2 separate regions of the Homo sapiens genome follow, and region 1 is linked to region 2. Evidence: fine-mapped expression QTL. Tissue or cell type: whole blood. Region 2 holds a variant in brackets; the other region holds the start of a gene. All regions are shown on one strand. Distances are between the middles of the regions.

Region 1 (2,628 bases), 32 kb after region 2:
CCCCACCTAAAGCCTTCTGTGGCTCCCTAGTGCCCCTGGGTAAGGTCCAAACTCTGGATTGGTACAGGCATCCCTGTGGACTCTGATCTCTGCCCACATCTCCAGCCTCAACCCCACTTGCTTCCCCACCCCTGCCTTCTCCCTCCCAGCCCCACTGGATACTACCCTGACCCTGGAATATATCATGTTTTTCATTTCCAGACCTTTGCACTCCCTGTGCCTGACTCCTGGCTCCACTCAGACTTCCCCTCCTCCAGGAAGCCTCCCCAGCCCCCCAGGGCCAGGCGGGGTGCCTGCTCTGGGTTCCACAGCCCTGCCCCACCCTGCCAGCTGCTAACATCTGATAGCACTAATAAGTGCTCTCTAATGGCCCTCTCTAAGGGCTTTGTGAAGGCAGAGGACATGCTATTTTGTTTGAGGCCAAAGTTCCAGGGATTGGCACATAGTAGGTGTCCAATAAACATTTAATGAATGAATGAATGGTCAGTCATTCATCTGAGTAGCAAATAATTGCTTGGGTTCTCATGCTGCGTGTAAAATATCCGAGACGGAGAGGTGCTTCAGACAAAAATATACCTTTCCCATGTCACAAATAATAATTATAATAATTGTTTCCTTGGCCAGGTGCAGTGGCTCACGCCTGTAATCCCAGCACTTTGGGAGGCAGAGGCAAGCAGATCACCTGAGGACAGGAGTTCGAGACTGGCCTGGCCAACATGGTCAAACCCTGTCCCTACTAAAAATACAAAAATTAGCTGGCGTGGTGGTGGGTGCCTGTAAACCTGGCTACTTGGGAGGCTGAAGTGGGAGAATCGCTTGAATCCAGGAGGCGGAGGTAACAGTGAGCCGAGATCGCACCATTGCACTCCAGCCTGGGGGACAAGAATGAAACTGTGTCTCAAAAAAAAAAAGTTCCCTTGTCCTTGTTTTCCCATCCCAGACCTAAGCTGACCCCAACAGTGGTTCAGCATCCGGGACAATCACTAGACCTAAAATGAGAAGACATGGAGATGCCTGCATCCCGGAAGAGATGGCCCAGGGCCAGGGGTAAAGGCTGTCTCTGCCCCTTGCTGTCTGGGAAGCTTTGGCCAAATAAGTTCCCTTTTCTGAGTTTCAGTTTGCTCATCTGTCAAATGAGACAGGGTGGTGCATGAGTCATAGGCAGTGCCCGGGAAAGCGGTGAGGGTTGCTCTCATCCCCTCTCCTCCTCCGTCTTCACCCGGAGGCTTAGGGTCTGGAGCTTTCTCTTTAACAAAGGAGGAGGGACCAAGGTTGCCGGAAGCTGCCTGAAGCTGGACAGAGCCGGTTCCTGGAAAGAGCTGGTTCCCTGGCAGGCTGGAGGGCAGGAGCTGGGGCCACGCTGGTCTGGGATAGTTGGGCAGGGAGGTAAGGGGTCTGGGGCCAGCTGGGGCCCCTGGGGCTCAGTGTGTGTGTGAATGAGAGGCTGATGAGAGGCTGCAGGAGTTTGGGAGGCTTTGGGCAAAGTCCAAGCTGAGCAGGTGGGAGTGAGAGGGCCTGAGCGTGTTCTAGGCCCTCCTGGGAATGTCGATTGAATTCAGGGTGCCCTGCAGAAGAAAGTGTTGTGCTGGGGACCCTGAAGGGCGAGAGTGGGTTCTGCCTGCCAGAGGGGCAGGGTTGGGCATTCTGCCAGCCAAGGGGCCAGCCCGAGGTGTCCCAGCCCTGGCACCAGGGATTTGGCTGTGGAGTGCCACCAAGGTGGCCTCTGGGGAAAGGCTTTGGGGACAAGTGAGGTGGACAGCACTGGTGGTCCTTACCTCAACTCATAGATGTGACAGGTAAGGCCCAGTGACAAAAGTGACTTGGCCAAGGTTGGCATGACTGGGACCTGAGCCTGAGCCCCCTGCTTTCCCCTGGGTTATTCCACAGCAGGGAGACCCAGGTCCCCCATTTCAGCCCTGGTGGCTGCCATACGGGACAAGAGGTGTGTGTCCCTGGGCCAAGACAGCTCAGTCCCAGACCTCAGGTGCCTGATGGGGTCTGGGGTTGATAAGGCTGTTGGCAACTTGGGGCTTTTTCATTTAACTGATGCCTGCTGTCCTCTTGTGAGTCAGTATAACCAAGAGGGCTGGGGAAGCCTGGAAACTGAGCCAGGAGCATTTGGTTCCAAAGGACAATTGGCAATAAATATTAAATGCATGCAGCTTTCATAATAGTAACGATAACACTAGTATATTAGAGAAAGTATAGCATCGCGGTTAATAGCACAGATGCCAAAGACACTGCCTGGTGTGAATTCTGGCTATGCTGTTTCTAACTGTGTGAACTTGGATAAGTTACTTAATCTCTCTGGACCTCAGGTTCACTGTTTATAAAATGGAGTCAATGGTGAGTTAATGACTCATCTGTTGTGAGCCAACAGGTGGCTCACACCTGTTATCCTAGTGTTTTGAGAGGCAGAGACAAGAGATTTACCTGAGGCCAGGAGTTCAAGACCAGCCTGGACAACTCAGCAAAACTGCATCTCTATAAAAATTAAAATATCAGCCGGATACAGTGGTGCATGTCTACAGTTCCAGCTACTCAGGAAGCTGAGGTGGGAGGATTGCTTGAGCCCGGGACTTCAAGGTTACAGTGAGCCATGATCGTGCCACTGCACTCCAGCCCAGG
Region 2 (2,760 bases):
CCCTCAGGAAGCAGTCCCCTCGTCTCCCTTTCTGGGCAGCTTCCTTGAGGACAGAAACTTGAAAACAAACACAAACCAAAGTTTCTGGCCATCTGTGGCTGGAGGGTTCTGAATGTCCTCTCTCCATGTCAGGCAGAGGGTCAGCCCCCATGCTTCTGCCTCAGGCCCCACCCCACCCCACCCCAGGCCTGCCCCTCACCTCAGGGCCATACCCACAGCGCCCTGATGGAGGAACCAGACCGCAGGCTGTGCCACCATTAAACAAGAGCGGCTGTGGCCCCATGCTGTGCTTCTTGGGGTGGCAGGGAAGGTGGGGTCAGCGCTTTTTCTCCTCTCAGGTTTGGGTTCTGCGCCATCCCCCATGCAGCCTCCTGTGCAGCCCTCTGTCTGTCCTTCTGTCCATTCATTCATCTGCCAACATACTCACCCATCATCCATCTGCACAGCCTTCCACCCACCCATCCGTCTTCCATCATCCATCCATCCATCTACCTATCCATTTATCATCCATCCACTCACCCATCCAACCACCCATCCAACCATTCAGCCATCTCCATCTGTCCATTTTCTTTCTTCTTCTTTTTTTTTTGTTTTTGTTTTTTCTGAGTGGGAGTTTCACTCTATTGCCCAGGCTGGAGTGCAATGGCATAATCTCTGCTCACTGCAACCTCTGCTTCCTGGGTTCAAGCGATTCTCCTGCCTTAGCTTCCCAAGTAGCTGGGGTTACAGGCATGAGCCACCATGCCTGGCTAATTTTGTATTTTTAGTAGAGACAGGGTTTCACCATGTTGGCCAGGCTGGTCTCGAACTCCTGGCCTCAAGTGATCCGCCCGTCTTGGCCTCCCAAAGTGCTTGGATTACAGATGTGAGCCCCCGCACCTGGCCTCATTTGTCCATTTTCCATCCACTTACCCACCCACCCATTTACTCATCCAGCCATTGACTCATCCATCCACCTATGAGATCAGACAGGGAGGGATCCTTTTTTGTATTGGTCTGTATACCACAGCATGGCTTACGAAGTTCTTATCTATCTATCACCCATCCACCCACCCATTTATCTACCCACCCATTCATCCACCCACCCATCCAACTACCTATCCATTCATCCATCCACCCATCTGCCAACGCATCCATCCATCCACCCACCCAATCATCTACCCACTCACCTATCCACCCATCCACCTACCTATTTGTCACCCATCCACCCATCCATCCATCCAATCACCCATCCAACCATCAATCCAACCATTTTCATCTGTTCATTTTCCATCCATCTACCCGTCCACCCATTCACTCCTCCATCCACCTACCT[A/G]TCCATTTATCACCCATTTACCCATCCATCCATCCATCCTTCCAACCATTTATCCACCCATCCAAACATTTCCATCTGTTTTTCCATCCATCTACCCATCCACCCATTCACTCATCCATCCACCTTCCTATCCATTTATCATCCATCTACCCACTCACCCATCCATCCAACCTTCCAACCATTTATCCACCCATCCAACTATTTCCATCTGTTCATTTTCCACCCATTTACCCATCTACTAATTCACTCATCCATCCACCTACCTATCCATTTATCATCCATCTACCCACTCACCCATCCATCCATCCTTCCAACCATTTATCCACCCATCCAACCATTTCCATCTGTTCATTTCCATCCATCTACCCATCTACCCATTCACTCATCCGTCCACCTATCCATTTATCACCCATCTACCCATCCATCCACCCACTCATCCATCCATTCATCCATCCACCCACCCACCCGTCCATCCACCTACCTATTCATTTATCACCCATCCATCCACACACGGGTCTGTGCAGATTCATTAATATCCACCCATGCATCCATATTTATCTATTTTCTATCCATCAGCCATCCATTCATTCATATCCATCCATCCATCTATCCATCCAGATGTTTATTGAGCACCTGTGTTCTGGGTCCTATTTGGGAGCCTTGTTAACCACCAAGACCTTCCTAAGCCATATTGTGGTATACAGACAGATACAAAAAAAAAGGCTCTCTCCCTGTCTGATCTCATGCAGCCTGCCTTGGAGACAAGACTCTCCCAGTGCTGTGTGCTTGGAGAGAGGAAAGCACACAGCCCTGGAGTCAGAGACCTGGGTTTCAATTCTGTCTCCACCTCTTATTAGCTAGCTATGGACTCCTCTCTGAGCCTCGATTACCTCATCTGTGAAATGGGGTAATGGTGTGAGCAGCGTTTCCCTGGGGGATGTGATGCAGCCCACTTGGGGCCTCATGCACTCAGCATCTCTTTATTAGCAAACACTTATTGAACCCCTAGTACATGCCAGGCACTGTTATGAGGTCCCGGGGATACTTTATAACAAAAGGGACAGAAGCATTCCTGCTCTTGTGAAGTTTACATTGACTAGATAGTAAACAAAATAAATGAAATATGCAGTGTGTCAGTGCTGGTAAACCCGTGGAGAAAATAAAGCAAGGTTGGGGTCTGGGGTTGGGAATTGACTTGTGGTTTTATCTTATTTTCCTTTTTATTTATTTATTTATTTTTTGAGACGGAGTCTCACTCTGTCGCCAGACTGGAGTGTAATGGCACAATCCCGGCTCACTGCAACCTCTGCCTCCTGGGTTCAAGTTATTTTTCCTTTTTGTAGAGACAGAGTCTCACTGTGCCAACCAGCCTGGTCTTGAACTCCTGGGCTCAAGCGATCCTCCCACAGGCGTGAGCCACTGCGCCCAGCCCTGAGTGACTCTTA

What was found. PIP is the estimated chance that this variant, and not a neighbour inherited with it, causes the effect.
Region 1: SDSL starts here. The variant in region 2 is fine-mapped to the expression of SDSL in whole blood (TOPMed, PIP 0.96).

What each region holds. Positions count from the first base shown.
Region 1 is chr12:113,421,092-113,423,719 of GRCh38, forward strand. It overlaps SDSL (serine dehydratase like), which reads left to right and starts at 1,289. Exons shown (of 8, transcript NM_001304993.2): 1 at 1,289-1,386.
Region 2 is chr12:113,389,121-113,391,880 of GRCh38, forward strand. PLBD2 (phospholipase B domain containing 2) reads left to right here. Exons shown (of 12, transcript NM_173542.4): 12 at 1-2,509. Among named protein-coding and RNA genes, the nearest start is that of SDS, 13 kb to the right of the region's middle. The variant A/G (reference allele first, on the strand shown) is at 1,316.